2 linked regions of the Homo sapiens genome follow. The protein of the gene in region 2 interacts with the protein of the main gene of each other region in a biochemical or structural test. Each region holds a gene or a part of one and is shown on either strand. Other genes may lie near its edges. The genes, in order: LTF and LYZ.

Region 1 (7,303 bases), on a different chromosome or scaffold from region 2:
GTGGCTGAGACTGCAGTGATTACTGAAGGAGGGAGGCCGAAAGTGGAGACAGTTCTTTCTCAGGAAACAGAATAGCAAGTCACCTGCTGAGACTTGGGGGTTGGAATGCTGAAGTGGGGCTAAGGAGACAGATGCAGATTGGAAGGTAGCAAATGGCTGAGGACCAGGAGAGAGAGTGATTGTTCAAACATTGGCTGGAAGATTATCTTCCATCATCTGCAACCACCTGTAATTTTGTTCCCACTAACTCCCAAGGAGTCTCCAGACCAAGGCTCACATGGGGATGAATGAAGGCCTCTACTTCCTTTTTCATAAAGGGAGGCTTCATTTGCATATGTTCACCCAGTTTGTAGCATCATCCACAGTTTCCAATAGGCATGCATGATCTCATGTGGGCAGACAGTGTGTTTCTGTGGTTGACTAGAGGAAGCCAGGGAGACATTTGCTACTGAGCATGGCTAGTATCTGTGTGTGTGAGAGTGAGTGTGTGTGTGTGTGTGAGAGAAAGAGAGAGAGTGTGTGTGTATGAATTTCGTTTCAAAATCCATATGACACCTACAGATGTTATCATGTTGTCTATTGAGATAAAGAATTTTGGAGTTCTTTTAATCACAAATATGGAAAATGTTATAAAACCTTCCCAAAGGCAAATCTGAACACTAAGATGTGTTGTGATGCCAAAGACTCTGCTTTGAAGGAGAAAAGGAAACACCTTCACCTACCATCAGTGTTCTGCAAGACAGTGACATCTTTCACAAATGCAACGTCTCCAGCATTCTCAGCCAGGCACCTAAAATGTTCCAGAAAATATACACATAATTACAGAAGAGAAACTAGTGGGGCTTTCATAAATATTTGTAATATGCATTCCAAAAACTGAAATATGGAAGTAAACATCTAAAAGACAACTATTTCTAGGAATTTACTGTTTACAGCGGCAGATTGAACACAGGTGTACCTGCCCTCCTTTTAAAACCCTATATAAAAGACATTACAAAACCAAGAAATCTAAAGATATGCGACCCAGGAAACAGGCAATCTAACATGAAGTAAGACAAAGGAAAGCACCAAAATAATGGTCAACAGGACCCCCAGGACCACAGATGTGCAGGCGGCCTACACAGCAACCAGTCCAAACTGCAGCAGGAAGATGGATGCCTTCTGGAGCAGCACTTCCAAGTAAATGATGAAACTGTGATAGCACCCAGAGAGAGAGAGAGAGAGAGAGAGAGAGAGAGAGAGTGTGTGTGTGTGTGTGTGTGTGTGTGTGTGTGTGTGTGTGTGTGTGTGTGTGTATGCATGTTGTTAGGAGATTTACATTACTGGCAGACAGTTTGGGGATGAGATAGTGATGTGTTTTTTTAAGTGCAGAAAATTAAGCAAATAAGAAAAGACATTTATGAACTCCAGAGTAAACAAAAAGTTTGTACAATAAGGGAAATATAATATGAGAATAACGCTTACACAGTCATAAGTACTGAATATGACATTAGCGTGTTGGGTGCTGAAGAGAGTTGAAGTCTGTGGTTGTGTGGTGGAAAAGGTGCTGGGGGCAGTGTGAGAGGCTAGATCTTCTTCTATACTACAGAGTCAGCAGAAAGTTAAAAATTAAGAACCAGCATTATAAGGATGATAGAAATAAAGGGGTATGACACTGGTTTCAGCTTTTAATGATTTTGCTATAAATTTCCCCAATCTAGATTCTAGATATAATTTAAACAAAAGACAAGGGATTTTCTTCCAGTATAATTAGGAATATTAAAATGTGGGTGTTTCCAGTGAACTAATACCTTGCTGCAGGTCTGAAAAAAAAAAAAAGAGGAGCACATGCTTCTTTCGGGCTCTTATGAGACATGTGTTCAGCATTTCTGAGTAGAATCACATTTCCATTTGCAAATCCTTAGTCCCTTAAAGATATTTTTATACATTCACAAAACATTTTTTTTTGTTTTGGGTCTTTTTTTATGAGCCACTTATATAGCAAAAGCTACTTTTCTGTCATTCCATTACTGGAACAAGGCTGTTGAATTTATATTAAAAAGTTCAGACACCCTCAGACACATGACGCCATCTGGTCGTGAAATGTACTCTTGGCAAATGGAGGAAAAGGAACAGGGGAAGATCCTCTCTGCACCCTTCACACTGGTAAATAGTGCCCCTGAGAAGCAACACCCGGATGAATGGTGCTGTAAAACGTGGGGTGTGGTTACAAGTCACTAAGTGGTTATAACTTATGAATTCTGAAAACTTGTTTTTTGGCTTATTTTTCACTTCGTTACTGGAGAATAACACTGCAATTCTGCCATCTCTTTGCCATTTCTAAGGCCAAAGTCAGAGAAAAAGGGAAACCTAAGCCATAGTCATGACCTAGGTGAGAAGAAAAGGGGCGGCGATGGGAAAGAGAATTCTTCCCCATAAATGGAATTGTAGGAAGCACTTAGGATACCACACTCTACCCATTTGATTTTCAGGACGAGGCTATTGAGGCCTACTGCTGTTGATCTTGGCTCAAAGCCACAGGGAGAAGCACTGCGGAGCTGAGGTCAGACAGCCCTGGTGCCAGCCTCCACTCTCTGGGGCGGTGGGTGTGGTGGGGACAGCCCTCACTGGGGCCACCCATGAGCTGACCCACAGGATGACCCCCACTCTGCTGTGACAGGTCACATCTGGCTCCTTAGAACTGCAATGCTGACATGCTGAGGGATGAGGTAAGTCCCCATCCTGATGGAGCTCAGTCACAGACTCACCGGAAAGCCCCAGTGTAGCCGTAGTATCTCTCGTTGCTGTTGGGCACGCACTTATTCTCACCCTGCTCGTCGCCAATACACAGAGCACAGAGATTAGATCTCGGGTCAGACCCAGGGGCACAGCTTTGACTGAAATATTCATCTGGAGAGAAGGAACACGGGGAGTCAGCTCTTCAAACCTGAGTCCACACAAGCAACCTTTACCTAACAGCCGATGCAGGGTGGTTTCAGTTCATTAGACTTCCCAGGACAGCAATCTAGATAGAACACACTCACCATCACAAAGCAACATGTTGTCACCAACATAGGACCCACCAGAAAAGCTTCATTCAGACTGTAGGCACAGATGGACACCCAACTAAGGCTGGGGATGAGAGCTGTGGCTGCCTGGAGGGTCCCGTCATCACAGCCTTGAGCTGGGGACTCAGCTCATGACCGTGATGGCTGTGTGCAGCAGAGCCTGTGAGTTGCCTAGTCCAGGATCTGATTTTGTTTTTATCAGTAATGGAAACCCTGCTTTGTATCTGGGTGCTTGGCCCTTTGGTATAAAGACTAGACTTATCAGACTCCCTGGGGCTCATATGGCCATATGGGTAGCTATAGGCCAGTGAAATATCAGCAGGAGTGTTGGGCGCCAGCTTCTCAGAAACATCCTTGAAAGACAATTGGTACATGCCTTTTGCCCTTTCTTCTCCTTCTCTTTCTTCATCCTGCACATAGAATGCAGAAGCAGGGACTGGACTTAGAGATGCAATGTGGGCCATGAGGTGACCTTGAGCATGAAAGCCACACAAATGGCAGAGTAGCCAAATGATTAAAGCCCAGGTTCCAGACCCCATATTGTCTTCATACCAGCCCTAGGCAAACCACCTCTGGACTACATGACACAGAAATTAACTTCTGTCTTGTTTAAGCCTCTACTATTTCAGGAGTTTTCTGTTCCTTGCAGCTGAACCTGATCTGAATTCGTTCATTGTGTGATTTAACCCAAGAAAGAATAAACAAAGGTGACAAGAAAGCTCTGCCCCACTGAGCAAACGTCACCCATTATCAGACTCCCACTGCTGCTGGAAGAGCCACACTATGTGTCAACCTCAGGAAAAGCTGGGAGTTCCCATTCCATCCTGGCAGTTTCCCTACAGCTCAGAGGCTGCCATGGAGCTGGTGAGGAGCAGAGCCACGTGAAAGCTGCCTGCCCCGGCCAGGATCAAAAACCCATGCAGTGGAGCCCCTGCCCTAGGAGACGCCCATACAAGAAGGGAGTCACATTGAGGATGTGCTACACACCATGCCACGGGGCCCACAGCAGGCAGGGTGTGGCTGATGCTGACTAGGATGAGTGTGGGGTGTGGTGGGGAGAGAAAACTGCAGAAGCAGGTGGAGCCAGGCTCTTGAGGTCTTATTCAGGCTCCGTTGCAGTGTAGAGTAAGCGTCAGTTTTGCTTAGTAACAGGAGTCACCTTTCATGAGGCAGGCAGACATCTTTCCCCAAGCTGGGAAGCCAGAGTTTAAGAGGAATTTAGGTCTGGAGCTCCAAGAGGTAAAAAGCATTTGCACATCTTGGAACTTGCATTTATTCTTAGGGTGCAGCGAAATAGGCAGATATTCCAATCTTTAATCTTGGGGTGGGGTGAATGGGGCATGGGAAGTGCTGTGCAGGGAAACCCCCAGTGCACCCACGCCTCCAGGGGGCAGCCACAGGGAGAATTTCCTTATGCTGGAAGAGGCCTGCAGGCCACTATCAGCCTGCAAATCCCCTCCCCTCCCTTCCCTAAGGTTCCACAGCACAATATGCCTACCCTCCAGGGTGGCCCACCCACCGCACCTTTGGAACTCCTTACCAAATTTGCAGGAGCCCGTCTGGTTGAAGAGCAGGCCCATGGGGATATTCCAGCCTGCAGTCCTGTCCACGGCGGTGTGGCAGGACTTCTTGCCTTTCACAGAGTTCCAGGTAAGGCTAGTGTCTGATCTCCTAACCACCGCCACAGCAAGATATCCTGGCATAACAGATGACAGAAAAACAAGTCTTAACCTCCAGGAGGCCTGGCACATGGATTCCAGTGGAGCTGTCTACAGCCCAGGCCAAAACAGGCCAAGAAGCAACACCAGGCAATGATTCCCTCAAAGAACTGGCCTTTTTAGGTAGACCGAGAAAGCATAAGCTGCTGCCTTATGTTAAGGTGAGATTGATGAAATAAAACAGTAAGAAAAGCTGATTATTTTAGTGATTACAGGGGACTGTCTTCAACCAGCCACACAATGTCCCTGAGTTACAAACCAGCAATGCATCTCTCAGTGTAAGCTTCTACAGCAACAAACACTATAAACAACAAGAGAGACCCCAACAGTGCATAAATCACCAACCACAGTGTGCATCAGGCAAGAGCACCAACATCCAGCCAGCTAACGGCTGTGTGGGTACAGGGGCACATGTCCCCAGGGACTGCCCTGAGCTGAGTCTGAACCCACCCTGCACTGGTTGAACTCAACATGGTTGCCGTTGTCCTCCTGAGAGAATGCATCTGACAGACACCCACCAAGGGCAAGTCTTTTCTGAAACTGAGCAAGCACCAGCTCTGGTGGGCAGGAGGAGTGGTGCACAGAGCACTGGGACACGAGTCCCAGGTCACGAGGACCCGGGGTCAAGACCAGGATCTACCACAGTATTACCTATGGCTGTGAGTGAGATCCTGGGCACTTGGGGACTCTCGGTGCCACTGTTTCCTCATCCCCATGAGGTGGGGAAGTAGCACCCCCCATTCCATGACCATGACAAAATGAGGGACTATATGGATGTTCTTTGCCAAGTGTGAAGGTCAATATAAACATTAATTAGAACTATTCCTCTGTGAATTATTTGCACCCTTAAAATTATTGCTCCTAGAAGCCCTATAGCTTCTAGGGCTGCAATTCTTTCTGTTTTTTTTACAGTTCCTGCCACTTCCTCTTCCAGCAACAAGAACTTATCCTTGACCCTGAAAGTGGCTAATGCCAACTCACCTTCCACAGGTCTATCCACACAGTTAGGATCAGGGTCACTGCTTTGTTGGGATTCTGAAAGAATAAAGACAAGCCAGACATCATTATCCATTCAGATGTAGTGAGAAGCCACAAACTCTTAAATCTCAATGATGCAGAATCAAATCCAAAGAGACCGTCCCAGCAGTTCCATGCAGGAGAAATGCGTCTATATGTTCAACAAAAGACATGGCACAGAGATTCACAGCTGCATTATTCACCACAGCCACCAACTGGAAACTACTCAAATGCCCATCCACACTCAAATGATGAATAATCACAGTAGACTCACACAGCGACGAGACTGAACAGTCTACAACTACACACTTAGGTGGATGAAAAGCATAACGATGAGCAAGAGAAACCAGACATAAAAAAACACATGCTGTGTAATTCCTTTAACATGAAGTTTAAAACATAGGCAAACTTAGATCTGCGACCTTAGAAGCCAGGAGAGAGGCTTCCCTTGCAGGAGTAAGGGGGCGGGGGACAGGAGGACATAAGGGGCTTCTGAAACTTGCAGTGTTTGTTCTGGGCCCGAGAGCATGGACTGTACAGTGTGTGAAGTGCCATGAGTTGTACATTTATGTGCACTTTTCTGTTTGTATGTTATAATTCACTGAGATCTTCTGGAAAATTAAGAAGATAAAACCAACCTGTCCCTTGTTAATTCTCAACACAATAGGCTTTGTGGGTAACACGGCCCCTTTCATTTCTTCTTTCCCTGATTCTCCCTTTTGAATGTATCTGTTCATCATAATGTTTCACCTGCATTCACCGAATGGGATTACTCATAGCCCCACTCCCATGACCCAGAGGGAATATACCAGAGGATGCTAACTCCACTTACTGTAGTTCTCTGCCAGGACAGGCACCAAACCACATTTGCCTGCAGTGTACACATATCCTCCATCCAAACTCATGGCATCAGCTTCTCCTTTCTGCAAAGACAGAGCAGATCTCCAGCACCACAGTGAGGCTGCATCCCGTCCTGCCTGTCTATATAGCTCTCTGAGAGAATGGTTTTCTGTCAGGTGACCAGTGAAACAGCAGAAAGAGATGGACTATTCAAACTGAGCAGCCAGAGGAAACACCGTGTGCACCACTAATTCTCTCCCAGCCCTGCCTACTTTCTGGGCTGTCAATTCAACTGGAAAGACCAGGCACAGGTTGCACTAATCCTCTGTCCTCTGAGCAAAACCTTTTCTGTGTCCCTGGCACTTTGGGGACACCTTCCTGGAGCAGTCTCACTGACTGAGGACACAGATGGGAACAGCTGGCCTCATCTAATCTGAACTCATTAGCACTCCACTCCAAGCGCTACACAGAAGTTGTCCAACACATAAGCTGAAGTCGTCATATTGGCCCACCACCAGAATGAACAAGTCCAGGCTACAACACAGGATCATGGACTCATCAGTAGTATGAAACTTCCTCTTTGACCCAGTAATATTTTTACAACTATATTAAAAATAGAGAAGTGGACAAAGATTTCTACTCAAGAATGCTCACCACAGGGTTATTGATAATAGCAAAGTA
Region 2 (3,657 bases):
TGGAGTCAGTGCTGTTGGCAGGAGCAGAGGCTCTTCATCCTGATAATAGGAGGGAAGGAAGGAAGGATGGGCCTGTGGGAAGGTATGACTGCTGCTTTGGGATGTAGAAGGGAAAGCTTGGTATGAAGTTGCTTTTGTTTTAGAAGTGTAATATGAGGCCAGGTTATCTGCTGAGAGCAGAGGAGGGTGGAGGATAAGGGGGCAGAGGAGGAGGCTGAATGTGTGTCTTGAGGCTTTGAAGAGAGAAGAGGAAAAGTAAAATAGTAACAGTCATTTTGGAGACTAGGGACATAAAAATGGAAGGATTGTAGAGAAGTAACTAAAATGGTCAGGCAGACTTGAGGGCTCATTTGAGATTTATGGTTATGAATTTAAAGTGAGACCTGTCAGCATGCTTGTGAATTTTTCTCCAGCAATATCTGACTATTTAAGTGAGGTAAGTGACGATATAAGAGATATTAAGAGCACCAAATCATATTTTTTCAAATATCTGTATTCTTTTCTTCAGAGACACTATAGGAGTCTAAATAAAAACAGACAAGGCATGTGTTGCAAAGCCTTTAATTAGAATGTTTGTATTTTTTACATCATGCATAACTTCACATTTGTGATTAATTAGTAATTATTTCAATACTTGTAAGCTCATCTGCCTCAGATTTAATCATAATACATGAATTAAATTAATCAAATTAAGGAACAGCAATTTAGAAAGAAACACACTTTAAGAAATCAAAATTCTCAATTCAGGCAGTCTGTTTCTATCATTTGGTATTCTACTCCTTTAAAAATTTCATATTGCCCAACAAAAAGTGGTTATTTTTACTGTTTTTGGAGATGACTGAACAGATGAAGGCATCAGATGCCTTCATCAGCTGGTATTTTGCCTAAGATCTATTTAAGATAACCTTTTCTTATATTTTTTACTTAATATTGGGCATAATCGTATCATTCAAGATTAAGTCTGGGTTATTTCTTTGATAAGAACTGAATGTGGCCGGGCGCAGTGGCTCACGCCTGTAATCCCAGCACTTTGGGAGGCCGAGGTGGGTGGATCACAAGGTCAGGAGATCGAGACCATCCTGGCTAACACGGTGAAACCCTGTCTCTACTAAAAATACAAAAAATTAGCCGGGCGTGGTGGCGGGCGCCCGTAATCCCAGCTACTCGGGAGGCTGAGGCAGGAGAATGGCGTGAACCCGGGAGGTGGAGGTTGCAGTGAGCCGAGATTGCGCCACTGCACTCCAGCCTGGGCGACAGAGCGAGACTGTCTCAAAAAAAAAAAGAACGGAATGTACTGGAGATGTATTTGATAACCAAGGTTTTAGGTAAATTTTCACCAGTATTAGTTCTATTTGCAAACTGAAAAATGTTGTAGGCTTAATGTAAAATAACCACATTAGTGAACATTATATCTCTTAGAAGAAAGGCCATATTTTGCTCCTGCTTCTGTAAAAATATTATTTGTTTGAAGGGGAAATAATGGTAGTGTGACCTTTCACTTAATTCCTACTCCCTTAATGTGAGAGAGACAAAATGAGCTGAAGAAGGAAAATTCTGGAGTTACACTCCACAACCTTGAACATACTGACGGACATCTCTGTTTTGACAACGATTTCTCCATGCCACCCTGTAGAAAAAGATGAAGCAAATGGTGAAAGGTTAAAACATATCTTCATTGTAATATACATACTTCGCACTCCTTGGGGAAACAAAATATTTTATCAATAGATAAAATAGTAAGATAGACCCAGCTATTGCTATTTATTAAATGAAGATATGTATACAAAATACTTCACTCCTACCCAAATTTCTCAGTAGAGCATAGAATGCCGAACATAAAGATTGAGTAATGTGCGTTGTACAGCAGCAACTGCAAAGTGAATTCCACATTTATTTTTTATGTATTTATTTGAGACAGAGTCTCACTCTGTCGCCCAGGCTGAAGTACAATGGCGCAATCCTCTGCAACCTCCACCTCCCGGGTTCAAGCAAGTCTCCTGCCTCAGCCTCCCGAGTGGCTGGGATTACAGGCACCTGCCACCACACCCAGCTAATTTTTTGTATTTTTAGTGGAGATGGGGTTTTGCCATGTTAGGCAGGCTGGTCTCGAACTCCTGACCTCAGGTGATCCATCTGCCTCGGTCTCCCAAAGTGCTGGGATTACAGGCGTGAGCCACTGTGCCCGGCCCACACTTACTTATTCTAAAAAGAATTTCAAGATATGACAAGGAACTGATAGAGTGTGAAGCATCTTAAAACTCTAGAAATCCCCTAAAATAAATTGAGGAGTAAAAGAGTAAGATTCTGGATCAGTTAAAGTAGATTGTTTCTTCAAGGATGTAGGTAATACATCATTTAGCATAAGCCAAAAGCTGCAATTTTGAGGTGTCATTAGCATACTTTGGTCTTTAAAAGTCTGCTCTCATTGTATATATCAACAGTAGAGTAAGATAGTTTTCCCTTTTAACACTTAAAACATACCATGCTCTAATGCCTTGTGGATCACGGACAACCCTCTTTGCACAAGCTACAGCATCAGCGATGTTATCTTGCAGCAAAGCTGAAAGACAGGTGGTAAGGAATAAAAACTTTAATAGATATTTTATTTTAAATTTAGGTTTAGCCAGCTTTTTTCTGTTAGGCTGTGGAAAGAATGGTAAGATATTATTTTCTATGAGTCCATATATGTGTAATTGTTGGGGAAAACTCTCTTCATTCTCTCCCATTCAGCATGAAATGAAGCATTTTTTTCTTCATTTACCAAAGTCATTGGAAGCTCTGGAAGTATTAACAAAATGATTAAAGGTCTTCTTTGCACTAGACACTGTAAAAAAACACCTAGTGATATTTTACTCAGCAGTTCTATTATTGAAAATTTATCCAAAAGAAATAAGAAATGCACCCAAAGATGTATACAAAAAGCTATTCATAGCAATTTATGAGGGAAAAATGGAAACAACCTAAGTGCTCAATAGTAACAATTGGATCAGTAAATTATAGAATATTCATATATTAAAATTCTAGTCATTCTTTTAAAATGATGATACAGATTTGTATTTTTTTCTCATCTGGAAAATGGAGCAAAAGATCATTAAAAACCGATTTGTATTTGCTGACATGCAAATAATTTTGTGTGATAAGAAGCAAATTGTAAAGCCGTGTGTATAATACAATTTAATTTTTGCAAAAGCACACAGTATTTACATGTTTGTATGTGGGTTTATATGTGTATGATATAATTTAACATTCATACACATGATTGATATACATTCTGGAAGAATATATACCAGAATTTACCCATGGTTATAAACCTCTGGGTAGTAAGATTATGGGTGTTATTTTTCTTATTTGTATTTTCTAATTTTTATTTAATGACCAAATATTATTATATAATATAAATTTTTTTAATTAACTGGATTTTAGAAATAAGATTAATGTTCTTTATTGGGAATTTTAATATTTAACAATTTAATAATATCAACTTTGCAAGATTTCTGCAATATTTTTGACACTGAGGATTCCACATGGTATTTCTATTTTTATGAGTTCAGTAAAATATTTGTTTCACTCCAAATAAATAAATCCTTAAGTTAATTTGTTATTTACAATAATAATTCTACAGGAACTGTATTTTTTGAAGATGTAAACTAAAGAATT

The links.
Region 1: the proteins of LYZ (region 2) and LTF form a complex in vitro, tested with the Homo sapiens proteins (one study listed by BioGRID).

Annotation. Positions count from the first base shown.
Region 1 is NC_000003.12:46,440,694-46,447,996, forward strand, and holds part of LTF (lactotransferrin isoform 1 preproprotein), read right to left. Parts: intron 6,706-7,303; coding exon 6,615-6,705; intron 5,801-6,614; coding exon 5,747-5,800; intron 4,744-5,746; coding exon 4,588-4,743; intron 2,890-4,587; coding exon 2,748-2,889; intron 791-2,747; coding exon 723-790; intron 1-722. UniProt on the Homo sapiens protein: Transferrins are iron binding transport proteins which can bind two Fe(3+) ions in association with the binding of an anion, usually bicarbonate. Lactoferricin binds to the bacterial surface and is crucial for the bactericidal functions.
Region 2 is NC_000012.12:69,351,123-69,354,779, reverse strand, and holds the end of LYZ (lysozyme C precursor), read right to left. Parts: intron 2,561-3,657; coding exon 2,482-2,560; intron 1,628-2,481; coding exon 1,561-1,627; 3' UTR 546-1,560; downstream 1-545. UniProt on the Homo sapiens protein: Lysozymes have primarily a bacteriolytic function; those in tissues and body fluids are associated with the monocyte-macrophage system and enhance the activity of immunoagents.